Linked DNA regions of Homo sapiens. The protein of the gene in region 1 purifies or fractionates together with the protein of each later gene. This does not show direct contact. Each region holds a gene or a part of one and is shown in the gene's direction. Other genes may lie near its edges. The genes, in order: SCPEP1, GALNT16 and CTU1.

The links.
Region 2: the proteins of SCPEP1 (region 1) and GALNT16 purify together in Homo sapiens (co-immunoprecipitation; 2 studies listed by BioGRID and IntAct, with this or other methods). This does not show direct contact.
Region 3: the proteins of SCPEP1 (region 1) and CTU1 purify together in Homo sapiens (co-immunoprecipitation; 2 studies listed by BioGRID and IntAct, with this or other methods). This does not show direct contact.

What each region holds. Positions count from the first base shown.
Region 1 is NC_000017.11:57,000,443-57,009,430, forward strand, and holds the end of SCPEP1 (retinoid-inducible serine carboxypeptidase precursor), read left to right. Parts: intron 1-412; coding exon 413-550; intron 551-1,575; coding exon 1,576-1,739; intron 1,740-5,730; coding exon 5,731-5,793; 3' UTR 5,794-6,326; downstream 6,327-8,988. UniProt on the Homo sapiens protein: May be involved in vascular wall and kidney homeostasis.
Region 2 is NC_000014.9:69,331,757-69,342,606, forward strand, and holds part of GALNT16 (polypeptide N-acetylgalactosaminyltransferase 16), read left to right. Parts: intron 1-1,328; coding exon 1,329-1,413; intron 1,414-1,740; coding exon 1,741-1,844; intron 1,845-6,894; coding exon 6,895-7,021; intron 7,022-7,770; coding exon 7,771-7,863; intron 7,864-9,924; coding exon 9,925-10,008; intron 10,009-10,850. UniProt on the Homo sapiens protein: Catalyzes the initial reaction in O-linked oligosaccharide biosynthesis, the transfer of an N-acetyl-D-galactosamine residue to a serine or threonine residue on the protein receptor.
Region 3 is NC_000019.10:51,095,838-51,106,687, reverse strand, and holds the end of CTU1 (cytoplasmic tRNA 2-thiolation protein 1), read left to right. Parts: intron 1-2,097; 5' UTR 2,098-2,118; coding exon 2,119-2,626; intron 2,627-7,548; coding exon 7,549-8,087; 3' UTR 8,088-9,082; downstream 9,083-10,850.

The sequences.
Region 1 (8,988 bases):
CCTACCTGTTCAGAACTTGAAACTTGGCCCTGGTGTTACTCAAAAAAACAGGAAAACTGACATTGGCCCAAAGCACAATTTATTCCCTGAGTGTACCAGCCTAATGAGTATTTCCTGGGCCTCTCCCTCCCTGTTTCCTTGGACAGTAGCCTATTCCAGGTGTCAATTCCTCATTAAAAATGGTGCCTGCTGTCATCACAAGCTCTCAAGAGAATGGACCACATGTGCTATTTATGTGTGCCTTACACCTGACCAGTCGGCACAAATTTCTGGGCTGGTTCATCCCTGTTTGTGAAGCATCTGTGCATTCAGTCGTTGTTCGGTGCTGGAGCCCAAGATGCTCTGGGCTGAAAGGTACCTCCTGTTTTGGCAGATTCCAAGCTACTCCCTCTTTCTCCTTCCCCATGTGCAGGCCAGGCTACCAACGTCTTTGTGAACATGGAGGAGGACTTCATGAAGCCAGTCATTAGCATTGTGGACGAGTTGCTGGAGGCAGGGATCAACGTGACGGTGTATAATGGACAGCTGGATCTCATCGTAGATACCATGGGTAGGAATTGACTCTGAGAGGCACCTAGAGGCAGTTTTATGGGTTCAACTGGAAGGGAACTGGCCTTGGACATGTCAGTCTTGCGGTGGGTGATGTTGAAATGCCAGGTGGAAGGCCATTTCCCATTACATCCGTCTACCCCGACCTTGATTATTCAAAGGGTGGGGAGCTGCACGTGGCTGTGACCCCTCAGAAGCCTGAGCCTACCTGGGTTTGGGGGCCCTTAGGTATGATTAAAGAAAAGAACACCACCTGTCTCTACCACAAAACTTAGACATTTTCCTGGTTATTGGGCAAATGCGCTGTTTAATTAAGGGAGAGCCTCATTTTTGTGCGACATCACAGTCGATGTTGACCACTGCAGAGTGAATTAAAACTAAACCCTAATGACTGTAACCCTGAAGACCCAGGGGAAATGGTCTTTGTGGAATCCTGACTCCTGCCCTATCACCTACCACCTGTTTAATTTGCTCACTTCCAAATTAAATAGGGCCTGGTGGAGGCTCAGAGACAGGTTCTCTGAACTGGCAGGGTAATTGAGGCACAAGGTCTGACGGATGTGACACGCCTCGTGAACCAGAAGGATTGAATATTTTTGTGATGGGTAAACAAGAGACACCAAGGACAATTTGGAAAGCTGCTGCATTTCTCGATGAACATCCCAGGTGATCCTTATCACTATCTCGTTCACGACATCTCTCAGTCCTCCTCACAGGCCTGTCTGCCTCCAGAGGTCCCCAGTTCCCTTCCTAAAGAGCAGATGGCGGTGAGAGATGCAGAGGCAAAATCAGTCAGGCTTTGCAGCTGTTAGGTTTCTCCCAGCAGCCTAGGTTTCACTGGGAGTCAGAAATGCAGATGCTCAGGCCCTACCCTGATCTTCTGAATCAGAATTTGCATTTTAACAAGATCCTGAGTGAGTTTCATGCATATTGCAGTTTGGGAAGCACCAACTTTTAGGACCTAGACTTTTTTCCTATTCTATCCAGCTGTTAATGCCAGGCCTTTCTCTTTGTCCTTCTCACCAGGTCAGGAGGCCTGGGTGCGGAAACTGAAGTGGCCAGAACTGCCTAAATTCAGTCAGCTGAAGTGGAAGGCCCTGTACAGTGACCCTAAATCTTTGGAAACATCTGCTTTTGTCAAGTCCTACAAGAACCTTGCTTTCTACTGGATTCTGAAAGCTGGTCATATGGTAAGAAAGAGCTTTTGTTCCAGACTTAAAAATCATCCTGAGAGGGAAGCCACAGGCGGTTATTATGCCTCTGTCCACTGCCCAGGTGGGTCTTGTAGGAAGTACGAGGGCCCGAGGGCCAGGTACAGTGGCTCATGCCTGTAATCTCAGCACTTTGGGAGACCAAGGCAGGTGGATTGCTGGAGCCCAGGAGTTTGAGACCAGCCTGGGCCACATGGAGAAACCTTGTCTCTACAAAAAATATGAAAATTAGGCCAGGCACAGAGGCTCATGCCTGCAATCCCAGCACTTTGGGAGGCTGAGACGGGTGGATCGCTTGAGCTCAAGAGTTCAAGACCAGCCTTCGCAACGTGGCGAAACCCTGTCTCTACAAAAATTTACCAGGTGTGGTAGCACATGTCTGTAATCCCAGCTACTTGGGAGGCTGAAGCACGAGAATCACTTGAACCCGGGAGGTGGAGGCTGCAGTGAGCCGAGATAGCACCACTGCACTCCAGCCTGGGCAACAGAGTGAGACTCTGTCTCAAAAAAGAACAAAAATCAACCGGGCACGGTGGCGCATGCCTGTGGTCTCAGCTGCTCAGGAGGCTGAGTGAGGTGGGCAGATTGATTGAGCCTGAAAGTTAGAAGCTATAGTGAGCCAAGATCATGCCACTGCACTCCAGCCTGGGTGACAGAGCGAGACCCTGTCTCAAAAAAAAAAAAAAAAAGAAAAATTAAAAAAGAAATACTTAGGGCTTGGGAGTGTTTTGAGTTTCCTAACAAAATTCCGCTATTAGCACTAGAGACTGCGAGCACAAGGGTGAGTGGTGCCCAGTCCCTGTCCTCAAGGAGCTTGTGGTCTAGAGACAGACAGGCAAGGAGACTGTCAACAGCTGGCTTGGCCCAGGGAAGGGTGCCCTGCCCAGGCATGCAGATCTGGAAGATTGTGCCCCACGTGATGCGTAGGAGTGATTTAAGGAAAGAGGAGGAGGTGGGGAGCATGGAGAGCAGTGAATACAAGGTCCACAGGAGCCTCAGACAGCGAGGACTTGGAATGGACACTGGAGGGAGGTGGCTGCAGAGGGGGAATTTTCATACCACTCTAAGGAGTTCAGACAGTAGGGCACCAAGCAGGGGTTTTAAGCAAAGGAGTGAAATTAACAGATTTGTCCAAGAAATACCATTCTAGCAGTAGAGGGCATGGGGCAAGCCTGGGGCCAAAGACCAATCAATGAGGCTGTCAGGTAAATCCAGAAAGGAGGAAAGTAGATGGATTTGGTGAAGTGTAAAGAAGGGAAAATTGGCAGGACTTGGTAATCATTTGGGGTAGAAAAGAACTGAAGGGTGGCTTGCAGGTTTCTGCTCCAGCATTGTGGTTTGCGATGGAGGGAATTTGCACAAGCTGAGTTTGAATTGCCTATAGAACAGAAGGCAGAAGAAGAGCCTACAAATGAGACTGAGAAAGGAGCAGCCAGATAAGTGAGAAGGGAGACCAGGGATGCGTGGCATCCCCAAAGCAGGGAGGGGCCCGCAGTGCTAAGTGAGAACTCAGGGGAAGGGCTGAAACGTGAGTGATGATGTGCTTACACCGATGTCCTTGGCACCTGCGTTGGTGAGATATTTTGGTGAGGTGGCAAGCTCAGAAGCCAGATTGGAAAGACTGGAGAAAATGAATGAGTAGTGAGGAGAAGAGACAGTAGCTTCCTTTAAGAAGCCAGAGAAAGCAGCCCACTCTCAAAAGACACTTAATCTAGGCTGGGTATGGTGGCTGACACCTGTAATCCCAGCATTTTGGGAGGCGAAGGCAGGTGGATCACCTGAGGTCAGGAGTATGAGACCAGCTTGGCTAACATGGAGAAACCCTATCTTTACTAAAAATACAAAAATTAGCTGGGCATGATGGTGGGCACCTGTAATCCCAGCTACTCAGGAGGCTGAGGCAGGAGAATCGCTTGAACCTGGGAGGCAGAGGTTGCAGTGAGCCAAGATAGTGCCATTGCATCCAGCTGGCGAGATAGCGCCACTGCACTCCAGCCTGGGCAACAGAGTGAGACTCTGTCTCAAAAAAGAACAAAAATCAACTGGGCGCGGTGGCGCCTGCCTGTGGTCTCAGCTGCTCTGGAGGCTGAGTGAGGTGGGAGGATTGATTGAGCCTGAAAGCTTGGGTGACAGAGTGAGACTCTGTCTCAAAAAGTAAATCAATAAATAAACAAATAGACTTAATCTAAAGGGAGAACAAACAAGGCAGCAGGGCACAGAGGGAGAGGGCATTATTTATGGCTCTCAGGATCTGAGTACCTTCAATATTGACTAAAAGAAAGAAAATTAGAACGTCTTAGAGCAAGCACTGTTACAGGTTGAGTACCCCTTATCTGAGATGTTTGGAACCAGAAATGTTTCAGATTTTTAATTTTTTTTTTATTTTGGAATATTTGCATATCCATAATGAGATATCTTGGGGATGGGACCCAAGTCTAGGCAATGGAATTCATTTATGTTTCATATACACCTTATACACATAGACCGAAGGTACTTTCGTACAATATTTTAAATAATTTTGTGCATGAAGCAAAGTTTGTGTGCACTGAGTTATTAGAGAGCAAAGGGTGGCTATTTCAGCCACCCATGGCTCTTCAACCAATCTGTGGTTGTTAGGCATCATATCATTTCTGACTCCAAATTTATATGCTGCCGATAAGCAATCTTTTTCTTGCATGTAGTCACACATAAGTACTTCACAGTAAGAAATACAACATACCATTAATACAGTGGAAAAGTTGTGTGTTCAGAGTAACTGAGCAGCACAGTAGCATGACCAGAATACCTGTGTCAGCTGCTAGACAACAGCAACAGCAAGCAACAGCAGCTTTCGGTCTCTACCTACAATGCTGTGTTTTGATTAAAAGGTTACTGTACTGTAACCCCCTTGGGGATGCAGAAATAAACTGTGTGTTGTGCGCCTGCATTTTGAATGCAGCCGCCCATGGGGCAGGTGTGAAATGTTCCACTTGTGGCCTCATGGTGGCACTCAAAAAGGCTGGAATTGTGGAGCATTTTGGATTTTCCAATGAGGGATGCTCAGCCTGCCCTAGAGAGAAGTCCCTGACGAGGCTGGTAGGAAGGCATGGAACAAGCCAACCACGCGCTCTGTATACTAGAGTTCAGGCCCATTTCCTGTTGGTTTGTCACATATAGAACAACAGATCAGTTGGGGACAGGCTTAAAATAGCCCTTGGAGACTGTTGTTAAGTCGTCCCCAAACCACTTCCCCTTTCATTGATTAAATGACATTTTAGGATAACCCACCTTGCCTGTGCCTCCTGGGGACTCTTGGCAGAAGAGTCAAGGATGGGTGTGCCATAGAGAATCATGGAGCCAGGGAATTACATAACGGGGAGACCATATACTCCAACCCCTTCTGTGTAGGGAGAAACTGAGGCCTCTGCCCTTCCCCCTTTTGATGCTGTGTGGGAAGGAAATTTTAAAGGACTTATTCTAAAAATCTGAGGGAAAACAAAAGAAAGTTGAATAACTGCGAAAATCGGATGCCACCCAAAGGGCCCTGTTTGTTTTTATTATTTGCGGCTCTCTGCTGTGAGCTCCCTTCTCAGCCATTTCTCTATTCTCAATCCGGGATCCCTTCTAGACAGATGCCTTTAAAATGTTTAGAATCTTCCTTCTTCCTTGAACAGGCTAGGTCTAGTATCATTAGCATGACCCTTACCAAGAAATCAACAGATCAGCTCCAAATGGAGTAGAAGGTTCTTGTCTTAAATGCTGACTTCTCCAGGTCCCTGCCACCCAGCCCAGTCAGGGCCCAGAAGAGCTTTCATCCAGTGCAGGAGTCATTTTCAGGAAGGACCCTCTCTCAGGGATGTGCCCAGGTGTCTGCACAGGTTGCTGTCACAGAGCTGGCTCCCTTTTGGGAGCAAGGTTTCAGGATGTTGCCTCTGACCCCAGCCCCAGGAATAGCACCAGGAGCACTAACTCAGATGTTGTTTTTTTCTAGGTTCCTTCTGACCAAGGGGACATGGCTCTGAAGATGATGAGACTGGTGACTCAGCAAGAATAGGATGGATGGGGCTGGAGATGAGCTGGTTTGGCCTTGGGGCACAGAGCTGAGCTGAGGCCGCTGAAGCTGTAGGAAGCGCCATTCTTCCCTGTATCTAACTGGGGCTGTGATCAAGAAGGTTCTGACCAGCTTCTGCAGAGGATAAAATCATTGTCTCTGGAGGCAATTTGGAAATTATTTCTGCTTCTTAAAAAAACCTAAGATTTTTTAAAAAATTGATTTGTTTTGATCAAAATAAAGGATGATAATAGATATTATTTTTTCTTATGACAGAAGCAAATGATGTGATTTATAGAAAAACTGGGAAATACAGGTACCCAAAGAGTAAATCAACATCTGTATACCCCCTTCCCAGGGGTAAGCACTGTTACCAATTTAGCATATGTCCTTGCAGAATTTTTTTTTCTATATATACATATATATTTTTTACCAAAATGAATCATTACTCTATGTTGTTTTACTATTTGTTTGACATATCAGTATATCTGAAACACCTTTTCATGTCAATAAATGTTCTTCTCTAACATTTTTAATGGCTGTGGAGCATTCTACTTTATGGTTGTACTCTAGTTTATTTACAAAATTCCCAGTTGTTTCCGACAAGTATAATAATTTCTAGTTTGTTGCTATTATACATAGTGCTCTGTTGATTCACCCTGATAGTTAGATTTTTTTGTACCTCCTTATTTTCTTAGAATAAATTCATAAAAGTGTAATTATTTAGTCAGAGGATTGCCACATTTCCTTAAAATCAAAATAATTAGCTCAGGACTTTTAACTTTTTATTCATAGCTCAAGATCTACATAAGGAGGTTTGATGCCGTGGCTCACACCTATAAACCCAGCACTTTGGGAGGTCGAGGCAGGAGGAATGCTTGAGCCCAGGAGTTCAACAACAGCCTGGGCAACATAGGGAGACCCCATTTCTACAAAAAAAATAAAAACATTAGCCGAGCATGGTGGCACACACCTGTAGTCCCAGCTACTCAGGAGGCTGAGGCAGGAGGATCACTTGAGCCAGGGAGGTTGATGTTGCAGTGAGCCATGATCAAGCCACTCACTCCAGCCTGGGTGACAGAGACCCCATCTCAAAAAGAAAAAAAAATCTGCATAGGGGATCTAACAGCTTCTAGGACTGTCTGAAAGAAATATCACCTCTTGTAGTTGCAGGGCTGAGATTTTATTTATTTATTTATTGAGACTCTGTGACCCAGGCTAGAGTGCAGTGGCACAATCATGCCTCAAATGATCCTCCTGCCCCAGCCTCCCAAGTAGCTAGTACCACAGGCAAGCACCATCACATCCAGCTAATTTTTAAAATTTTTTCGTAGAGTTGGAGTCTCACTATGTGGCCCAGGCTGGTCTCGAACTCCCAGGCTCTAGCAATCCACCTGCCTTGGGCTCCCAAAGTGCTGGGATTACAGGCATGAGTCACCAAGCCTGGCCAAAGGCTGAGATTTAAAAAAACAGCCAGGCACGGTGGCTCCAGCCTGTAATCCCAGCACTTCGGGAGGCCAAGGCGGGCAGATCACGAGGTCAGGAGATCGAGACCATCCTGGCTAACACGGTGAAACCCCATCTCTACACACACACACACACAAAATTAGCCAGGCGTGGTGGCGGGCACCTGTAGTCCCAGCTAGTTGGGAGGCTGAGGCAGGAGAATGGCGTGAACCCGGGAGGCAGTGCTTGCAGTGAGCCGAGATCGCGCCACTGCACTCCAGCCTGGGCAACAGAGCAAGACTCTGTCCCAAAAATAAATAAATAAATTAATTAATTAAAAAAAATAACAAACCCAAAGCTTATTCCTGCAGACTGTGAGGAAACAGTTAACAGCAGGTTATGTCTACGTGACTAACCCCTTCAGACCCTGAGACTAAAAACAGGCTCCTGGGACAGAGACTACACATGTCCCTATGGTTCACTGTTGGCAAGAACTCCAGTGTGCCCATGGAAAGCAAGAACCTTAGAAGCCTGTGCTGGATACCCCTGGACATCACCCATGTGTATCGTTTTTACCTGCCGCTTTTGATATGCATCTTTTGTTACAAAAATGTTAGCTATTAGTATAACCTGCTACTGAGCCTTGTGAGTCTTGGTGAACCATCCAACAAAGCAGTGAATCATAAAGCAAGTTGAATTCCCAACCTCACAGAGTCTCTTCTGTTAAAAGTTAGTGCATTGATTGAGAAGAAATGTAATTCTGAACATTGAGATGAGTCACCTGCACAGATGAAGCTAGGGGACCTCAAACCTTTTTGGCCATTAGAAGCCGCCCTTCCATTGCTGTCCGGGCAGGTTAATCATGTCTTGTCCTAAGATCTTGTAGTAAATTCCTAGACTTGCCCAGGGCTCTTATTCCTGCTGTATAACATTCTCTCTCAACCCACACCCCTACCTTCCTAGGGAATCCCTGTGATCAGTTGACAAAGGAAGACAACTCTCAGGCTTGATTTACAGACGGGGCTCCACAGTATGCATGCATCACCTGAATGTGGACCGCTATGGCACCACGGCCACACTCCAGGACAGCCCTGAAAGATGGTGTGAAGAGAAATCCTCCCAGTGGACAGAACTTGGAACAGTGCACTCAGCTCTTCACTTTCCCTGGAAGGGGAAATGAACAGAAGAATAAGTGCACCAATTCATGATTTAGCTGGGTATTTAGGGACTTGGAAGAAACTTGATTAGAAGGCTGGGCACAGTGGTTCATGCCTATAATACCAGCACTTTGAGAGGCTGAGGTGGGAGAATCCCTTGAGTCCAGGAGTTCAAGACCAGCTTGAGCAAGATGATAACACCCTGTATCTACAGAAAATAAAAACATTAACTCAGCATGTTGGTGCACCTCTGTGGTTTCAGCTGTGTAGGAGGCTGAGGTAGGAGAATCACTTGAGCCTGGCAGGTTGGTTGAGGCTACAGCGAGCCATATTTGTACTCCAGCCTGAGTGACAGGGTGAGACCTTGTCTCAAAAAGAAAAAAAACTTGATTAGAAAATTGATGACAAGAAGCTCTGAGGAAGAGGTATGAGATTAGATCTCTGAATGGCCGAGTATGAAGATCATTGTTTTCCATCTGAATACTCAACTAGGGCAAGGGAAGATTTTAATAATCAGGTGGGTAGATGACCCATTCTGTGGCTATTAGCCTCCTTCAGCCATTCCTGTAGACTCATGAACAAAGTGGCCATGGCG
Region 2 (10,850 bases), on another chromosome or scaffold:
TTCTGATACAATCAGTAGCAGAGCCAGACTAGTCTCTCATCTTTCCCTCCCTCCAAATATTGACACTTTCTTCCCAAATGCTGCCAGCCTAGGGATCATGGCCACAAGTCCCGGCAGAAGGCCATGATGTGACAGCTGTCTTGAGGATGGGGAGTAGGGAGCCCTCAGCCTCACATGACTTCCTAACACATGCGCCCCAGAGATGGTCAAGACCAGTGTTGTGTATGGCAACTATCAGCCACATTTGGCTATTGAGCTCTTGAAATATGACTAGTCTTGAAAAGTGACTAGTTGGAATTAAGAGTGCTATAGGCATAGAAGACCCACAGGTTACCCAGACTTAGTGTGAAAGAATGTAAGATACCTCATTAGTAATTTTTTGTATTGATTACATGTTGAAATGACAATATTTTTGATATATTACATTAAAAATATTTCGTCCAAATTAATTTCATATATTCTTTTTCTGATGTGATTACTAGAACATTTTGAATTACGTATTTGGCTTACATTTGTGCCTTGCATTATATTTCTTTTGGACTGTGACGGGCTGTTCAGTACAGTAGATAATAGTCACCTTTGGTTACTTAAACTTGCATTAATTCAAATTAAATAAAACTTAAAAGGCAGTTCCTTAACTGTACTAGCCACATTTCAAGGCTCAGTAGCCACATGAAGTTAGTGGCTACCATATTTGACAATGCAGATACAGAACATTTCATCATTGCAGAGAGTTCTATGGAACTGTGCTGCTCTAGAGAATCTGTTGCTGGGAGCTGGCGGGCACAGTGGATTTCCTGTTTGGGATCTGGACTCCCAGTATATGGACCCAGCCATTAGTTAGATTGTGAGTCTGAGTGGGATTCTGAAGGGAGCCAGGCATTTCCCCTTTGGGAAATCACCTCAGGGCTTTGGCACTGGCAGCTGCCCCTGCCTTGAATTCCCTTTCTCCAGGTATCTTCATGGATCTATCCTTCATTCAGGTCTCTACTCCAAAGTCACCAGAGAGCCTTTCCTGACTATTCTAACTAAAATATTAATAGTATGGGCACTCCTTCTTTGTTTTCTTCTTTTTTTTTTTTTTTTTAGTACTTTCATCCCCAGCTGACATAGTCTCCACTGATTTATTTATCTTTGTAGCTTCTGTCTTACCCAGTAGATGGTACACTTCCTGAGAGGAGGAGCTTGGCTCATTCCGAATGAAGGAGGGACTGCACGAAGAGCCCAGGGCTCTGATCAGGGGAGACTCCGAGGGGTGGTGGAGTGAAGGGTCTCAGCAGCCCGCAGCTCTGCCCTGAGCTCTGTCCTCACCTTGCTGTGTCCCTTAGGGTTCGACTGGAGCCTGCATTTCAAGTGGGAGCAGATCCCTCTTGAGCAGAAGATGACCCGGACAGACCCCACCAGGCCCATAAGGTCAGAGCTGCGGTGGGCTCTGGGGGACCCCTTCCTTCCCTGGGTCAGGGGCCTGGGAGGCTCTTGGGAGGCTGTATCGGTCGCTTGGGCTCCTGAGGCGCACTAAGTGCTGACTCTGTTCTGGGCCTTCGGACCCTGTATGCAGGGACAGCGAGGACAGAGGCCACGGGAACAGATGTGGGGGGCCAGGGAGCTGGCCAGACATCCTGCCCCAGTGACTCTGCAGGGAGGGATCTAGAGGCAGACGGTCTTGGGTCCTGGGGCCATCTAAAGGGCCTCCTTGCTTCTCCAGCTCACGTGTTGCGTCTTCCCTCTCCTTGCTCCCAGGACGCCTGTCATAGCTGGAGGAATCTTCGTGATCGACAAGTCCTGGTTTAACCACTTGGGAAAGTATGATGCCCAGATGGACATCTGGGGGGGAGAGAATTTTGGTGAGTTGGGAAATAGTGACAGTGAAAATAACAGTAGCAGTAATAACCACAGTTAACCCTGACAGAGCACTTTCTATGCGTGAGGACCTGCTCTAAGGACTTTACACACATGAGGTCATTTAATTCTCTCAAGGACCCTCTGAGGTAAGTACCATGATCTCCATTTTACTGATTTTAAAACCCAAGGCACAGAGAAGTTAAGCAATTTGTCCAGAGCCACACAGCTAGTAAACAAAGAGGTTCTATTTAGGGGGAGCCCGTGGTCACATGGCTGGACATGTGTGTGGAAGAACACACAACTGTATCACAGACCACAGCTTACACACGTGGCTGCTTCCCTACCAGCAAGGCTGGGAGGTGTGTGGTAGAGGGTGGTGGTGAAATGCTAAGTGATGGAGTCAGATGGCCTGGGTGCAAACCCTGACCCTACCACCTGCATGCTGTTTGGCCCTGGGCAAGTTAAAGCCCTTTAAAGTCTGAGTTTCCTCAAGAGGTTGTTATGAGTACTAAATGAGGTGATGAGTTAAAGGCAGGTCACAGTGCTGGTGGCCACTGTCATTAGGCAGTCTCTAGACTCAGAAGCACAGGAAGCTGCCCCTCCCTGCCCTGAAGCAGCAGCGAAGGAGACAGAGGTGGGGGCAAAGTGTTCCAGTAGGGAGCTGGAGGGGGCTGGACCCTCACACACTTGCTTCTCAGCTCACGGTGTTGGGGCCACAGAGTACCAGGGAAGGGTTACCAAGTGGGATCGGAGCCCAAACTCTGGACTCCAGTATGTGTGGGCTGGCAAGCCAGTCAACTCTTTGAACCTCAGTTTCTTCATTTGCAAAACAGGGTTGCAAGTGAGATGGAGGTTAGATAAAGGGTGAGCATCAGTTAGGGTCCTGGCAGAATACGGAAGGTGCAACCGACTTGAGTGTTTATTAAAGGGCTTATTTACATGGTGCGGGCAGGATAGAGGGAACCATAGGGACAGCACAGTACTGGGCAGGGCTGTGACTTCTGGGAGCTGTAACCACCCCAAGGTCTGAAAGACAGGGTGAGGGAGCACCCCACGATGGAGCTGTGGTCTTGGGGCACATGCAGCCAGCCCATGGCACCAGGTGGAGAGTGTCAGGGCTAAACACTCACCCTCACTCTACCCCCACCCCGTCATCTCCTGCTGGTGCCTCCCTGTCTGCCTGAGGAAGGGAACCCAGCAGTGCAGCCCCCAGGGGCTGTCTCACAAACAGCGACGTGGAGACGGGGGCGGTGGGGAGCACCATTCTGGGGGTCTCCAGGAGCAGGGGCAGGTCCTTGGTGGCCTGTTCTTGCCCTCTTGGTGGGCCCAGTCCTTCACAGAGCCCTCTCCCACTGCTTCCTTCTTCTTCCTGACCAGGTGTTCTGAGCAATAACTAGCACTGGTGGTATCTCACCCATTTGACAGGTAGAAAGACTGAGGTGGATGCTGCCTTCTAGATTTCAGTCCGGAAACTCCACATCTAATGGGCGTATGCAGCTCCTTTACCAGAGCCACTTATGTGTTGTGGGACGTTGGCAAAGGCACAGTCTATGTCTCTGAGACGTTAGGAGCAGGGATTCTTTAACTCTTTCTCCCTGATGAGGAAAATAGCAGTGAGGGGGCTTGCAACAGGCCTGATCCCGACTCAAAACCAGCTGGAGTGGGAATGGGCATGGGACTCCCCCAGCTTTGTAACTTGCTTTTGGAGGCTGTTTCCAGGCAGGGTTCAGAGAAGTAAATTCTGGGAACTGGGGTGCAGTGACCCCTCCATTCTGACCCCTTTCATGTGTTTTGGGTCCAAGTGACCCGCTTTGTGTCTTCAATCTCGGCCTGAAGGGCTTTGGCAAAGCCAGTTTCCTGTGAAGACTTGGAAAGCTGGGAAACCCACAGTCTCCTTGCTCTGCCTCCAAAGGCCATTTTTTCTTTTTCTTTTTTTTCTGAGGCTAGAGACAGAGAAACAAGTGAATGATCAAACAGCTCATTTCAAACTCTGCCTGAGGCAAGGGCTCCGTGGTTGGAGAACTTGAAAGGTGAACCACAGAGTGGTTCTGGCAAGGGTTTTGTTTCTTAGAAGAAATTCAAAGAAATGTCTGGGCTAGCTGCAGTGCTCAGACGTTCAGCCGCTGGGACCAGTTTTGAGCTATGAGACTCCTGTCGCTGGTGGGTTTGAGCCTTTCCTTTTATTCCTTTATTGAAGGAAGGGAGATTTCCAAACCAAGACGTGTTCTTTTGTCCCCAAAGAATTCCAAACTCGGGAGCCCAGAGGCCACCTTGAGTGGGGCTGGCAGATGTGCAAGGTTAGGATCCCCAACAAAGATGTGTTGGGGATCCTTTTAAAACATAGATTATGTTGCTTCTGTGCTCAAAACCTTGCAAGAGTTCTCATGTCATTCTGAGGAAAACCCAAACTCCTTACTGGCTACAGGGTATCTGCCTTTCCCTGCAGCCCCGCAGCCACACCCCTGCCCTCACTTCCCACTTCTCCCACCCTGCCTCACTCCACGTGGGCTGCACGGCCTCCTTTTTTTTCAGACAGAGTCTTGCTCTTATTGCCCAGGCTGGAAGGCAGTGGCACAATCTTACTCATTGCACTCTCTGCCTCCAGGGTTCAAGCGATTCTCCTGCCTCAGCCTTCTGAGTAGCTGGGATTACAGGCACACACCACCAGGCCCGGCTAATTTTTGTATTTTTAGTAGAGACGGGGTTTCACCACGTTGGCCAGGATGGTCTCGAACTCCTGACCTCTCAGGTGATCCACCCGCCTCAGCCTCCCAAAGGGCTGGGGTTGTAGGCGTGAGCCACCGCCCCCAGCCAGCATGGCCTCTTTGAACTTGCCAGCTGTGCTGTTGCCTCTAGGGACCTGCCCTTGCCGGCTCCTCTGCCCGGAATGCTCTTCTCCTGCTAGCCACAGGACTTGCTCCCTCATCTGTTTCAGGTCTTGGCTCAAATGTCCCTTTTATAGTGACAACTCCCCTCATCAGCCTGGTTTAAAACATAGTCTTAGTCCTCCCCCACCACCATCCACTGGCCCTCTTCAGCTCCCAGCCTGATTCATTTTTCTCCATGGCCCTAACTACCATCTGATATGCTGTATTTATTTTATTTTTTATTTTTATTTTTTTCATTTTATTTATTTATTTATTTTTAGAGACAGAGTCTCCCTCTGTCACCCAGGATGGAGTGCAGTGGCACGATCTTGGCTCACTGAAACCTCTGCCTCCCGGGTTCAAACAATTCTGCCTCAGCCTTCCAAATAGCTGGGACTACAGGTGCATGCCGCCACACCCGGATAATTTCTTTTGCATTTTAGTAGAGACGGGGTTTCACCATGTGGCCCAGGCTGGTCTCGAACTCCTGAGCTCAGGCAATCTGCCGCCCTCAGCCTCCCAAAGTCCTAAGATCACAGGCGTGAACCACCGCACCTGGCTGACATGCTACATTTTTATGCATTTTCTTGTTTACTTGCATTTTTTTGCCCCTTATTTTATGGAGTTCCCGTCTTCTCACTTCCCTGCTAGAGTACAAGGGAATCTAGAGCAGTGTCTGACATATAATGAAAATTTGCTGAGTGAACTAAAGAATCTGACAGTGTGGCTTGCTGGACACAATGTGAACTTGATGCTGCACTTCTGCAACTGAATATTTGAGTGACCTTGGAGAGGTTATTTAACAACTTTGAGCTTCAACGTCCTCGTTAAAAAAAATAAGGCTAAAAATCCTGACTTCACATGGTTGCAGTGAGAATTAGATATTGGATAGAAAGAGCATGGCATGTAGTAAGTACTCAGTAAATGGATGGTTACTGCTATTGTTATGGCCATTGTTGATAATAATAACAATAGTTAATAATATTATAGACATTATGGGCTGAGTGGGATGAAGTGACTTAACTAGCATAACAAAGTTGGGATGGCAGAAATGGAACCAGAATGCAGATCTTCGGCCCCCCAGGACTGTGCCCAGTTCTACGCCTTAGTTGCTGAGGCCAAACACAGAGCTCTGACCAGGAGAAGGGACGGATGCCTGGCAGTTTATAGGCAGACCTAGGGAAGCCCATTGATATAGCCATCCTTACATGTGGGTCCAGGTATGCCAAGTGTCCGGTCCTGGCCCTGAACCACATCTGGACGTCACTTGGTGCACACAGGCTGGCCAGAGGTGGGCTTTAGTCCTGCTTCCTCCACTCTGCCCTTTGCTAGTTACTGGGAGGGTCCTGACCAGCTATGCCACGTGAGAGCCCCCAGGCCTGGTTGGAGATCATGAGTGTCCTTAGAGCCAGCTGAGGAGTGGGAAGAGACTATAGGGTTAATATGAAGGAAAGTACGAAATCAAAAGAGATTATGTGAGATTCAGCCAGCTGTCAAGGTGGGTCCTTACCATAAATGGCAACTGGTGAGCGGAGATCAGAGTGGTAACTTTTGAGGTCCCCTTCTGGGCAGCAGGATGGCCACTGCTCTCCCGACACCACTGGGGACCACAGTCATCCACAAAAGCTGGTTCAGCTCCACCACCGCTGTCAAAAGGAGGCATGGCTCAAGAGGGCCAGTGAGAGCCTGTACAAGGAGACCAACTGGGTCAAGAGGGAGGTTGGGGCCAGCCCAAGAGGTGCCAGCTGGAGCAGCCTGTGGTTTGGTTGGTGGCTGGTTTTCCGACCTCTCAGGTGCACAGAGCTGGCTGACGAGCAGATGTGTTTTTCCTTAGCTCATGTCTGTCTGGGGCTTTCTAGACAGAGCCTGGAAATGATGCCACTGTTTGGTTGTTTTCCTTCTACTTATGTTCTTGGTGTTCCTTCAAGCTTTTTCCACTGCTCTTCCTGGAATGGGCCACGGGGATCATGTGTATATGTGTGTGTGTGCATGTGCACGTACACACGTAGAGTGGGCAGTCAGGAACCTGTGCAAGGAGTGGGAGCACTCCATTTGAGCAGGCCCAGGAGCCCCGACCCCAACATGTACCTCCAGTGAGACACCAAAGGGAAGGGAAGCCAGCCCCTTCCCACCCTCACTTGCCAAGGAACCCCTTCCTCCTCCTGACGGCTACTATTTCCTGCAGAGCTCTCCTTCAGGGTGTGGATGTGTGGTGGCAGTCTGGAGATCGTCCCCTGCAGCCGGGTGGGCCATGTCTTCAGGAAACGGCACCCCTACAACTTCCCTGAGGGTAATGCCCTCACCTACATCAGGTAGGTCACCGAGAAAGGAGCACGGGACTCAGAGGAGGACACCAAGGCCCAAGCCCCCAGCCTTGCCAGTTATCACTATGTGACTGTGGGCAGCCACCTCACTTCTTGGGCCTCAGTTTCCCCATTTGCCCCCTCTGGTAACATCCTGGGATTGCAGGTACCTTCAGGGGTGGAGGGAGTTGCCACCAGGTCTCTCTTGCCTTGAGACTCATATGGACTTCCTTTGTCCATATGAGTCTCGGAAAATTGGCCAAATCCCCAACTAAGCCATGCTCTCCACTCATGGAGCCCCGAGTGCTGGTCATGGATGCCTGTGCCCCAACCCTGACTTGATCAACCATCTGTCCATCCCTATCCCCAGCTACAGGGTGCACTAGTCTCAAGGGAGAGTGGGTAATGTCCTAGAAGACCACTCCACGGTCTGCTCTCCTGAGGAGGTTGGCAGGGGAGGATGAGGGACTTGTCATGAGCACCCTCGTACATGTGGATGGTTCTTCACCTTGTCGAGCTCATGCTTATTCGTACAGCGTCTGGAGCAGCAGCTGCCCAAGTCTAGCTGCATACCTACAAAGTCGATGGGTATTGACAGACTGTCTTCCAAAAGGACCGTGCTAATCTATACCATCCAAGTATCACCTTGCTCCTGAGATTCTCATCGTCCTGTATTCATGGATCGATTAATCTTGATCCTGACCGCTAACCCTGTTGCTTCCCTGGTGACCTTATTTTGCTCTTTCCTCTCCTTTTAGGAATACTAAGCGCACTGCAGAAGTGTGGATGGATGAATACAAGCAATACTACTATGAGGCCCGGCCCTCGGCCATCGGGAAGGCCTTCGGCAGGTGGGCCCCCCCAGCTCCACTGTCTGACTCCCTCTACCCACATTAGCACAACCCCAGCAAAATACGAAGTGGTATGTACGCCAGGGAACCACCCGCCACCTCCCCAGCCACTGAGGTCCCACTCTAATGGGCTTCTTTGGGTCCTGGGAGGGAATGCAACCGCAGAGACAAGACCTTAGGCTTTGAGGAGCGTGAAATCTCATGGGAGAGAAGGCTCGCTTATGAAAAAGAGCTGCCTGTCCACAGCTGCCTGCAGAAGAACAGGCATCTGTGGAACTGCTTAGGAGGGGGCTGCCTGCAGAAAGCATTTGGGGTTCTGCCTCCACTCCCTGTTCAAAATTGAGATCTGTTAGCCTATTTTCCTGTCATGGACTGTTAGGACTATGGTCTAGTTAAGCATTTTCAAAATGCAGATGGGTTGTGAAATCAATTTAGTGGGTCGTGACCAGCATTTAAAAAGAGAGAGAGAGAAGTAGAACCCTATAGATTAGATTAGTACAGAGCAGGATAGAAAATAAGAGTTGATTGCAGTTAAGGGTTAGTATTGTCCTTATGAAACTCTTATTTCCGTTGTGGGTGCATGTGTGTGCATGCATGTACCTACACATGTACAGTTGCCCCTCTGCATCTGCAGGGGATTTGTTCCAGGACCCCCCACGGATACCAGAATCCACACAGATGCTCAAGTCCCTGATATAAAATAGTGTAGTATTTGCATACCCTATGCACAACCTCCTGAATATTTTAAATCATCTCTAGATTACTTATAATACCTAATACAATGCCTACACATCACGTCATTTGCATGGATTCAATGTGGTACTCGATGCGTGGCGAATTCAAGTTTGGCTTTGGAACCTTGTGGAATTTTTTTTTTTTTTTCTAGATGGAGTCTCATTCTGTCACCCAGGCTGGAGTGCAGTGGCACAATCTAGGCTCACTGCAACCTCCATCTCCTGGGTTCAAGCGATTCTCCTGCCTCGTCCTCTAGAGTAGCTGGGATTACAGGCACGTGCCACCATGCCCAGCTGATTTTTTGTGTTTTTAATAGAGATGGGGTTTCACCATGTCAGCCAGGCTGGTCTCGAACTCCTGATCTCAAGCGATCTGCATATCTTGGCCTCCCAAAGTACTGAGATTACAGGCATGAGCCACTGCACCTGGCCTGAAATTTTTTCCTAAGTATTTTTGATCCAAGGTTGGTTGAATCCATGGATGCAGAACCCACAGATACTGAGGGCTGACTGTACATGGGGCGTATTATATTACAAATGTAAGATAGTTATCTCCTACTTAAGCTTGTGGTCAGAAAAGTTTGAAAACACTATTAATGATGATCAATGAATCTTCTCCCTATTTATTCATATCTATCTCCCTTTTTTTGAAAAAATAAGTTATGTCACTAAATATTTCTTGTAATGAGGAACTAACATTTACTTAGCACCTGCCCTGTGCTAAGTGCTTCACACTTAATTCACTTGATTCTCACAAAAGCCTTCTGAGATGAGTGGTCGTGTCCCCAGTTGAATGTAGAGGAAACTGAGGCTCAGATAGCTGGTGACGAGGGCCGTCAACCAGTGGCCATTGTGGTGGGTGTACCTGAGGAAGGTGAGGATGGCGGTGTCCCAAGGACACATCTAATGGTTTTATTTGCCAACACATCTAAAGATGTTTAAAGCTTGCTCTTCCTGCTGTTAGACCTTCCTCCTGTACTTCTCATTAATTCTGCAAAGATAAAGACCAGTTCATGGTCTGCTAACAGAGGTCTTAAGGAGTGAGAAGCCGAGAGAAAGGCATGGTCCCGTATGGTCTGTGCTCACCCTGAAAGGTGAGCTCCAGGCAGGAATTTGATGAGTGAGGCATAGCCAGGAGACCTGCCTTGAGCTTGCAAGTCAGAGAATAACATCAGATAAGTGGCCAGGGCTGGACATGGCAGGCTGGAAGTCTCCTGGTCCTTGCCTGCCTGAGATAGTTGGGGCTGGGGGACAGGCCTCTGGCATCCTCCCTCGGGCTGCCTTCCACACTGGCAGGCCAAAGCCCAAGCCCTGCCTCCTCCTACAGTGTGGCTACGCGGATAGAGCAGAGGAAGAAGATGAACTGCAAGTCCTTCCGCTGGTACCTGGAGAACGTCTACCCAGAGCTCACGTGAGTGCAGCCCTCATCTTGTGCATCCCCCAGGCGGGTAGGGGGTGGTTGGGGCCAGCGGCTTTGGTCCCACCCCACCCTTAGATCTCCTCAACACTGGTGATCTGGCTTTCTAGCTGCCGGGTTTTATCTTCACGTGACGGCTGTGGGGGAACTGAGAGGGCATTACTAGGGGTTATAAATTAGGTGTGGTGGGAACCGAATTTTTAATGGTTTCAGATCTAGATATGGACGTTATCCCCTTAGGAAACAACACTGCATTACATAGCAAAGGCTGCAGAGACATTCGTCCCCTTTAGCCCTGTTCTCTCCCTTCTGGGAGTTTATCCTAAGGAAATAAAGCAACCAAAGCAGAAGCTGTTGACCAGCAGATCAATAGCTGTGGTGAAAAAATGAGAAACCGCCAGGCACAGTGGGTTATGCCTGTAATTCCAGCACTTTGGGAGGCCAAGGCAGGAGGATTGCTTGAGTCCAGGAGTTTGAGACCAGCCTGGGCAACATAATGAGACCTTGTCTCTACTAAAAATCAAAAAATTAGCTGGGCGTGGTGGCACACACCTATGAGTGGGAGGATCACTTGAGCCCAAAAGGTAGGGGCTGCAGTGAGCCCTGGTTATGCCATTACACTCCAGCCTAAGTGTTAGGGTGAGGAAGAGGGAAGGTGAGGGGAGGTGAGGGGAGGGAGGGAGGGAAGGTGGAAGAAGGAAGGAAGGGAGGGAGGGAGGGAGGGAGGGAGGGAGGGAGGAAGGAAGGGGAGAGGGAGAGGAAAAGAAAAGAAAAGGAGAGAATCAACAATAGGGGTTGGCTTCAGTGAATCACTATACATAGATCTAAACAAATAT
Region 3 (10,850 bases), on another chromosome or scaffold:
AAAAAAAAAAAAAAATTAGCCAGGCATGGTGGTACACGCCTGTAGTCCCAGTTACTCGGGTGGCTAAGGCAGGAGAAACGCTTGACCCTGGGAGGCAGAGGTTACAGTGAGCCGAGATTGTGCCACTGCATTCCACCTGGGTAACAGAGCCAGACTCCATCTCAAAAAATTAAATTAAATTAAATTAAAAATCTTTAAAAAATGGAAAGAGATGGGTGCTAGGCAGGACCTGAGGACATGAAGAGGCGTCCCCAAAAGAGAATTGAGCAGGAAATCCAGGAGCACAGAAGGAGTGAGTCAAAAGTCGGGGGAAGAAAGATTCCAAGAGTTGCTGCTCACCTGTGACAGATGTTCCCGACGGTCACTGCAGATGAGTCCTAAGGGCTGCTTCTTGGGCTCAGTGGCAGGAAGAGTACTCAGGGCAGAGGGGAGAGCCAGTGCAAACATCTGGAGCAGGAGTATTCCTCAGGTGTCAGAGTAAACGACATCAAGGCTGAAGGAGAGGAGGTTGGAGAAACAAGGAGCCACACATGTAGGGCCTCATCGGCCATTAGCAGTTATTATACTAAAGTGAGATGGGATCCAGGGGAGGATGCTGAGAAGATTCAGGGCATGATCCCACTGGCTGTTATGTGAAGGAGTGTTTGTAGAGGAGGCAAGGCGGGAGCAGGAGACCTGTGGGGAGCCCCATGCAGCCGTCCAGGAGAGAGACAGACCAGACTAGGGTGCTGCCGTGGAGACGGTCCTAAGTGTTTGGCTGTTTTGAAACTACATTCAAACAGGATTTGCTAAATTTCATTTAGGTACCTGGAGTTTGAAAAGGTCCGGACTTGGCATTGCAGTTTGGTGCCACCCACTGGGAGCATGACAAGTGCAGTGAGAGAAAGAGCAGTCCAGGGTCCTGGACCCCAAAGCTCCTGGCCTGAGCAGCTAGAAGGATGGAGCTGCCCTGTACTCCAGGAGAAGCACGCTGGGTTAGAAGAATCAGGAATTTGGGTTTTGAGATGCCTATTAGACATCTGAGTGGTACTGGTCTCTGCCCTCATAGAAGTTAGAGATGGTAAATATATAGTCACATAAAATAATTCCACACATTGTGGTAAATCCTAGAAGCAGCGTGACCTGCTCTGAATGGCAAGGAGGTGACTACAGTAGTCCAGGCTGGAGGTGATGGTGGCTTGGGGAGGAGAACTGAGCCTGGGGAGTTTTTATGGGTTCACCAGGCAGGCAGGACCAGGATTTGACTGGAGGGTTGGAGTCTAGGCTGGGTGGGGAAGAATGAAGTAGGAAAGATAACAGATGAAGGTCAAAGATGGGCCGATCCATGTCTTGGTGAGAGCACAGAAGCTTGTGGGGCATTCTGATACCAGAGCAGGGTTGAGTTCAATCTTGGAGGCCCACCCATTTTCTCACCCTCAAAATGTGTGCAACCCCAGCTGGTCTCCTGAGAGGTGTGATCCAGGCTGCCTGTGTTCCCTGGAGAAGGTGATCACCCTGCCTTTCATAGGATGCAATCAGAACCCATTCCTGGAGACCGTATCCCACCCTACAAAGTGCAATCAGTTGGCCTTTCCTGTTTTCCACCTCCCGCTGCACAGAGCTTCAGTCCCCTGGCCTCCCTCTGCCCTTAGAGTCAAAAACCCCTCACCTCCCAAGGGCTTTTAACAGCCCTGGTGGCCCAGGCCAATGATACCTACCTTGTCCTGATCAGGACTGTAACAAGGGTGGCCTCCCTGGAGGTTGTGACAAATGGGCCTTAATATACACCCCCATCCCTCTGGAGAGGACACAACCTAATCCTGGGTATAACCTGCTTGTCGCTCCCTCTCTTTACCCATGAAGCCAGCTTCTTAAGCTACTTCTCTTCTTCTTGCATAATGGGTGCAATCCAAGAAGCCTTCCCTAAGGCAGTGGCTTCCTTACACCGGACCTATTTATAACCATCCTATCCCCAGCGCTAGAAGAAGCTACTCCACTCGCGCACACGTCTCCCTGGTCTATTCCGGGCAGAGGTGCAATCCAGACAATCTCCCCGATGGCAGGGACCCTGCAATCCGGAATCCATATGTAACCCACCTCCTCTCTCTCCCTGTCTAGGAGAAGCCGACCCCTCCCGCAATGCCCGCCCCGCCGTGCGCCTCCTGCCATGCTGCACGCGCCGCCCTCCGCCGTCCGCTCTCGGGCCAAGCGCTGTGCGGTGCCTGCTTCTGCGCCGCCTTCGAGGCCGAGGTGCTGCACACGGTGCTCGCCGGCCGCCTGCTGCCGCCCGGCGCGGTGGTGGCCGTGGGCGCCTCGGGCGGCAAGGACTCCACGGTGCTGGCGCACGTGCTGCGCGCGCTGGCGCCGCGCCTGGGCATCTCACTGCAGCTCGTGGCCGTCGATGAGGGCATCGGTGGCTACCGGGACGCGGCGTTGGCGGCCGTGCGGCGCCAGGCGGCGCGCTGGGAGCTGCCGCTCACGGTCGTGGCCTACGAAGACCTCTTTGGGGGCTGGACGATGGACGCCGTGGCCCGCAGCACAGCCGGCTCCGGCCGCAGCCGCTCCTGCTGCACCTTCTGTGGAGTGCTGCGGCGCCGGGCGCTGGAGGAAGGGGCGCGCCGCGTGGGAGCCACGCACATCGTGACAGGTGAGCGTAGTACGGGCCGCAGAGCGGCACTCTCCGAGGCAGTGGGGCGAATGCACAGGCGAGGAGGCGGGACCTGAAAGGGGATTCAGGCGCATGCTCCAGAAGGCGGCGAGGAGACCCTGGTGGCTTAATGGGAGGATCCCTGTACGGAGGTGCGGAAGGGCGCATGCTGCAGTTTGGGGCTGGGGCCCTTTAAAGGTTCAAGACGCTGGGGAGACAGAGGGGCCAGGCAGTGATCACAAAGGTTTTTGGGTCTTGGCCACCGTCTTGGTCTCCACAGATTGCCAAAGGGGTGGGAGGTGAAAATCTCTGGAGATCTCTGGTCCTTTACTTATTTTTAAATGTTTCTAACATGCTTGATCTCTTATGGTCCACCTTTCAGAATCCAGCTCTTTCTCTAAAAAGCATCTCCATCTCTTAATTCCTTTTCTTGGTTGGCCTCTCCTCTTTGATAACTTTTTTTTTTTTTTTTTTTTTGAGACAGAGTCTCGCTCTGTCTCCCAGGCTGGAGTGCAGTGGTGCGATCTCGGCTTACTGCAACCTCTGCCTCCCGGATTCACGCCATTCTCCTGGCTCAGCCTCCCGAGTAGCCGGGGCTACAGGTGCCTGCCACCACGCCCAGCTAATTTTTTGTATTTTTAGTAGAGACGGGGTTTCACCATGTTAGCCAGGATGATCTCGATCTCCTGACCTCGTGATCCACCCACCTCGGCCTCCCAAAGTGCTGGAAGATAACTTTTTTATTCTGTCTTTTTCATCCATTCCTTCAACAAACAGATGCTAAGTTTCTGCTATATGCCGGATCCCAACTGTGGCCATACCAAAGTTCTTAACCACTCTGTACTTCTGTTTCACCCCATCCCTAAAACAGGACTATGAATGGTACCCAGCTCATAAACTTGTTATGACAATTAGATGAGTCAGTAGAAGTATAACGTTATCTATATTATAGTTATGTTACATAACCCGTATGATATAATATAGATTACACATTTTATACATGCTATTATCATCATCATTGTCAGGCTAGGGCTGAGAATACAGTTACGCACAAGTTCCTACCTTTGCATGGTTATCAGGTACAAAATTATAAACATTATACATGTTATTGACCATGTATGGACATGTTATGGACTATGTGTACACACAGAGAACCCTATGACGTGGAGGGAGTGGGGTCAAGGAACGGTTTTGAAATCTGAAGGCTCACAGTGAAGAGGTAAAGCGGGTAAGAATTAGGGAGAGGTTATTGGCCTGTGAAAAGCCAATTTGGGCTGCCCCAAGAAGTCCAGTGTGGCTGGAACCCAGAAAGCAAGGGCAGGGGAGGCTGGAGAGGTGGAAGAGGTCAGGCCTTACCCTGTAGGCTGTGGCGGAACCAGTAAAAGTGACATGAAGAGAGTTTCACTTTGAAAAGCTCACCCAGGCCATGGCGAGGAACCTGGGTTGGAGGGACAGGGACAAAGCCGAGGAGACCAGTCAGTGGGAAGCCAGCTGCGGTGATGGAGGTGAGAGATGATGGTTGGAGAGAATCAGCACACTGAAAGCATATGAAGGCAAAAGTAGTTCTGAGGCTGTCATGTGCCACCATGCTAGGTAGGGCCACTGGCTCTGGGGAAGGCTTACTGAGCTTCATTCACTGATGTGGCCCTTTCCTTACTGAGTAACTTTGGAGAAATCCCTAGATCTCTGTGATTGAAAATGGGAAGAATAATCCTTACCATACAAGAGCAGACAGTGTATGGAAAGAATGAAAGGCTTCGGCCGGGCACAGTGGCTCACACCTGTAATCCCAGCACTTTGGGAGGCTGAGGCAGGCGGAATCACAAGGTCAAACGTTCGAGGCCAGCCTGGCCAACATGGTGAAACCCCGTCTCTACTAAGAATACAAAAATTAGCTGAGTGTGGTGGTGGGCGGCTGTAATCCCAGCTACACGGGAGGCTGAGGCAGGAGAATTGCTTGAACCCGGGAGGCGGAGGTTGCAGTGAGTCGAGATCACGCCACTGCACTCCAGCCTGGGTGACAGAGCAAGATTCCAGCTGGGGGAGAAAAAAAAAGAATGAGAGGCTGCCTCGGATTTTAAAGTTAATTTGATAGAATCACTTATTAATTGTACTTCCAAAAGTAATGAAGCCTTCCAGAAAAATCCCTGACTTGCAAGGTGATTTCTACCCTTTGTTTATACACTCCATTTTCAAAGGCGTAGTATAATAATTGTTGTAATAATTATTACAAAACTGGGAGCTCTTAAGTGGGTTTGTAATGACAAGGTGTGGAGCAAATCCAGTCTCCCCTAATTAATGTGGTTTACAACTTTAAGTCAATAAACATTCAACGAGATGTCGTTTGCAGTAGCAAACATGCCCAATCTCAAGGTCACAGGGCTTGGCAGGTCTTTGGGAGGTAACCATTACTACAAACACAATTAGAGCCAAGTTCTTGGAGGTTTTTTACCATATAGACCAGGGCCTCTCAACTTCAGCCCTATTGATATTTGGGGCCAGATAGTTTGTTTTTAGGGAGCTGTCCTCTGTGTTATAGGATTTTAGCAGTATCCCTGGCCTCTACCCACTAGATGCTATTTAATAGTAGTGCCCCACCCCCAACCTGACACACAGAAATGTCTCCAGCCATTGCCAAATGTCTCTGGGGGAGGGAAGGAGGGCAGACTCATCCCAGATTGAGAACCACTGATATAGACTCAAGTATAACTTGACAAGACACAGAACAAGTTTAGCTTCAATTTCATGGTGACCAGTGTGTAAATATTTCTCACTGTTACTTCTAAACAAAGATAACACAAAAACACTGCAGTGATTACAGGGGTGGTGACACATGCTAGTAATCCCAGCCGCTTTGGGAGGCCGAGGCAGGTGGATCACTTGAGCTCAGAGGAGTTCAAGACCAGCCTGGCCAACATGGAGAAACTGCGTCTGTATAGAAATACAAAAATTAGCTGGGCATGGTGGCACACACCTGTGGTCCCAGCTACTCTGGAGGCTGAGGCAGGGGGATCACTTAAGCCCTGGAGACAGAGGTTGCAGTGAGCTGAGATCGTGCCACTGTCCTCCAGCCTGGGCACTAAAGTGAGACCCTGTCTCAAACACACACACACACACACACACACACGCACAATAAAACAAAATGAAAAAAAAAAACCATAAAAAAACTACAGTCTGGGTTGTCAGAGGCTCTGTGTCAAGAACCAGTTGTTTTCTCTGGCTGCTGTAACAAATTACTTCAAATTTCACAGCTTTAAACAACACAGATTTATTATCTTGTAGTTCTGTAGATAGAAGTCTGGGAAGTCTCACCGGGCTAAAATCAAAGTGTCAAGAGTGCTGCCTTTCTCCTGGAGGCTCTGGGGCAAGGGGGTCCATTTCCTTGCCTTTTCCAGCTTCCGGAGGCTGCCCACATTCCTGGCTGATGGTCCCTTCCTCCATTTTCTTTTCTTTTTTTTCTTTTGAGACAGAGTCTTGCTGTGGAGCCCAGGCTGGAGTGCAGTGGAGTGATCTCGGCTCACTGCAACCTCTCCCTCCCAGGTTCAAGAGATTCTCATGCCTCAGCTGGGGTTACAGGTGCCTGCCACCATGACCTGCTAATTTTTGTATTTTTAGTAGAGATGGGGGTTTTGCCATGTTGGCCAGGCTGGTCTCAAACTCGTGGCCTCAGGTGATTCTCCCACCTTAGCCTCCCAAAGTGCTGGGATTACAGGCATGAGCCACTGTGCCCGGCTCTTCCTCCATTTTCAAAGCCAAGGATGGCAGTTTGAGTCCTACACCGTTTGCATCACTCTAACCTTGCCTCTGCCCTCACACCCCCCATATGCAGTAGGCGGGTGGCAAATGAGGTATCCCCAAGTTCCCCAGGGAGCTTGTGTGTGTTCCCCTCTCAATTCCTGCTGTGTCCACCTCCAGCCACCACCTAGCTGCACCACAGTGCCCAGGGGGCTCCATGGCCCCATCTCCCTCTCCCGGTCTCTGGGTCCTGGCTGTCCTATGGTGCCAGAGGGGCTCCATGGCTCAGGCTTCCCCTCCCCATCTCTCTCTGGGTCCTGGCTGCCCACTATGTTCAAAGGTCTCCATGGCCCTATCTCTCCCTTTTCTGCCTCCCTCCTCCCCTCTAAGGGTCTTTGTGATTACCTTGAGCGCACCTGGATAACGCACCATTCTGTCCCTATTGTAAAGTCAGCTGATTAGCAGCCCCAATTCAACTTGCAACCTTAATTCCCCTTTGTCCTACAACCAAACATATTAACAGGTTCCCAGAATTAGGCCATGGATTCCCTAGGCGGTGGGGGAGACAGCAGCCTGCCTACCCCTCCAGCTCTCCTGAGAATCTCGGTTAAATGCCTTAAATGCCTTCTGATTTTTGTGTACAGTTTGAATTACGGTTTTAACTGAGGCTGATAAGGTTATTAGCAGCATAATGCACTTTTACTCCCTATATGAAAGGGCAACTAGCATAAGGTCCGCTATGCAGTAGGCGGGTGGTACATGAAGGCACGCCCAAGTTGCGCCAGGGGAGCTTATGTTTCTCTTTGATTTTTTGTTGTGTCCACCTGCAGCCTGCACCTGGCTGCTTCACGGTTCCCGGAGGGTCTCCATGGCTCGCTCTTGCCCTCCCCGTCTCTCTCTGCGTCCTGGTTGCCCACAGTGCCCTAGGGGTCTCCATGGCTCTCTCTCCCCCTCCCTGTCTCTGGATCCTGGCTGTCACACCATGTTTGGGGGTCTGTCTCCATGGCTTGCTCTCCCCGTCGCCGTCTCTCTCTGGGTCCTGGCGGCCCCACTGTGCCCTGGGTCTCCGTGGGTCTCTCCTCCCAGTCTCTCTCTGGGTCCTGGTGGACCCTTGGTTCCCCGGGGGGCTCCCTGGCCAGCAGCGCCCTCCGCGCCCCACCTCACCCGCTCCCTTCTCTCCCCACCAGGTCACAACGCCGACGACATGGCGGAGACCGTGCTCATGAACTTCCTACGGGGCGACGCGGGGCGGCTGGCCCGGGGCGGGGGCCTGGGCTCTCCCGGCGAGGGGGGCGCCCTGCCGCGCTGCCGCCCGCTGCAGTTCGCCTCGCAGAAGGAGGTGGTGCTGTACGCGCACTTCCGCCGCCTCGACTACTTCTCCGAGGAGTGCGTCTACGCGCCCGAGGCCTTCCGCGGCCACGCCCGGGACCTGCTCAAGCGCCTGGAGGCGGCGCGGCCGTCCGCGGTGCTGGACCTCGTGCACTCGGCCGAGCGCCTGGCGCTGGCCCCGGCCGCGCGGCCCCCGCGCCCCGGCGCCTGCTCCCGCTGTGGGGCGCTGGCCAGCCGCGCGCTCTGCCAGGCCTGCGCGCTCCTGGACGGCCTGAACCGCGGCCGGCCCCGCCTGGCCATCGGCAAGGGCCGCCGGGGTCTGGACGAGGAGGCGACGCCGGGGACGCCCGGGGATCCGGCCCGGCCCCCCGCCTCCAAGGCCGTCCCCACCTTCTAGCGACTTCGGGCCTCCCGCCGGGATCTGATGCCGCGGGGTGGGGGCTGCCTGTAAATGACACTGTGAATAAACCCGTTACCTTACCTGGCCTTCCATGTGGGGTTGGGAAGGAGACGGGGGCCCATTCACCTGAAACCCTGAAGAAGCTGGGACCCCAGACTTCGAGGTCTCAGGGAAGAAGGGTCTCGAACTGGGCTTCAGGCTCTGAGGGAGGAGGGGGCTGGGGGACCATCCTAGGTCTGAGAGAGGAGAGGGCCAGGACTAAGCCTAGAAGAAGTGGGACTGGGGACCCCAGGCATCTGTGGCTGAGGAAGGAGGGCCTGGGGTCGTGGACTCCTGGGTCTCAGGGAGGAGGGGGCTGAACACCGTGTGATTCTTGAGCGAGTGGGGATTGGTTGGGGACCTCCTGCCCAGGGCCTCTGCTGGTTCTGGGTGCGCTCAGCATGGTCCTGACCCTCCTTGAGCATCAGATTCCTGATGTTTCCTGTTTGCCCGCAGTGGGGTAAGCGGAGCGTGACTTGATGGACACACGCCATTCACAGCCGCCGTCACGATGCCTCCCTTCCAGCGCTTCGTGTGTAGCACGCACTGCACCCTCATTTCGTCTCCACCACGGTCTCACTGGCTGTAGCCTGAAGTGGTAAATGGCCCTAAGACACCCAGTCGGAAGGGGTCACACCGAGGGCTCCCTCCAAAGCTCTCGAATATCACAGGTCGTGGAATTGGTCCTCCCCCACCCATCCCCTCTCGAATCTCTCCTGGTATCTCTGTCACGGGTGAGGAGGGGTTGGATGCGTTCCCCAAACCTTGGACTCTGGAGGCAGGGTTGTGTGAGCCTGTCGGTGACTTAGCCTCTTTCATGTCCCATTTCTCCTATGAAAATATAATCAGCCCCCTTCCCCCCCGCCCCCCCATCCCCCCCGCATCAAGGCACCACTGGGAGGAAATGGAAGATCAGAGAAGTTGAGGTGCTCAATAAATGGTGACCACTTGGACTTGGTCGTTCATGTTACTGTCTGACCACCAGGGGGCGCCGGGTCTCAGGGTTGCTGTCCTGTACAGGTACGGGGAGGTTGTGAGAATCTCAAACTTCCCGGGGAGATGGTGCTCTCAGTCCCACCTCCAGGACTTGCTGGGCTGGCTTCTTGTCAGAAATGCCCCTTCTTCCCATCACCCTGCTCAGATCCTCCAGGGTCCTCCTAGAAGGCTTCTCAATTCTCTCCTCCCATCACCCAACCCAGGGCTTAGTATTCTCCCAAACCCCTGCTTCTCAGTCCTGTCTTCACTGTGTGGCCACCCAAACTTGGGCTGGAGGCCAAGGACTAGATGATTCACTCAAAACGTGTATGAGCATCTCCTTTGCATCAGGCACTCCTCTGGGTTCTAGGAACATGGCAGTGAACAGGAGACAAGTCTCTGCCCTCATGAAGTTCAGTCTGGGAGAAACGGACAGCAAGCACATCAATATGTAATGTCAGGTAGTGATGAATGCTACAAATTAAAAAAAAAATGATGAGAGAGAGAGACAGGAAGAGCTTGTTTCCACAGGGGTCAGGGAAGGAAGGGCCTTGGAGGAAGTGACGTTATGCACAGACCTACAGAAGCAAAAGAACAAAGCATGGAGCCATTTGGGGGAAGAGCTTTCCTGGTGGAGGGAACTGCTGGTGCAAAAGCCTGGAGGGGTGGGAATCAGCTTGCAAGTGCAAGGAACAGCAAGTCCAGTGTGGCGGGAACAGAGTGGGTGAGGAGGAGAATAGCAAGAGATGAAACGAGCCACTAAGCAGGGATGGGCCGTGCATGGTCTTCTGTTGGCAAGAAAGACTTGTATTTTAAGAGTGATGGTAGGTCTTTGGAGGGCTTTGGTCCCAACAGTGGGTCCAATTTCCATTTTCTAAAAGTTACTCCAGCTGCTGTGAGGAGAATGAGCTGTAGGGGGTGCAAGATGATCAAGATCAATTGTATAGGATGACGCTTGTGTGCCAGTCCTAGTGCCAAGTGTGCCTGCCTTCCTCATTAGCTCAGTGACATAAGGAATGGGTTTTCAGCACCAATTTTTTTTAACTGGTATGTAGAAGAATCTAAAAGTTTATTTTTTATTTTTTAATATTTTATTTTTCCATAAGTTGTTGGGGTACAGGTGGTATTTGGTTACATGAATAAGTTATTTAGTGGTGATTTGTGAGATCCTGGTGCACCCATCACCTGAGCAGTATACACTGCACTGTATTTGTTGTCTCTTTTCCCTCGTTCCCCTCCCACTCTTCCCCCCAAGTCCCCAAAGTCCATAGTATCATTCTTATGCCTTTGCACCCTCATAGCTTAGCTCCCACATATCAGTGAGAACATAGGATGTTCGGTTTTCCATTCCTGAGTTATTTCACTTAAAATAATAGTCTCCAATCTCATCCAGGTCATTGCAAATGCTGTTAATTCATTCCTTTTTATGGCCGAGTAGTAGTCCATCGTATACGTATACACCACAGTTTCTTTATCCACTCGTTGATTGATGGGCATTTGGGTTGGTTCCTTCAGCACCAATTTCATAAAGGATGAAATTACAGCCCAGAGAGGTGAAGTAAGTTGCCCAGGGCCACACTGCAGCAAATCAGCAAAGGAGCTGGAGCTCTGGACACTTTTGCTGGGCTACCTGCTGGAAGCCAGGGGACCTAGGTTCCTATTGCTGACGTGCCAGTGATTTACTGTGTGGCTTTGGGTAAGGGACCTTTTCCCTTCTGTTCATTGGAGTTTGTCCCTGTGCATGGG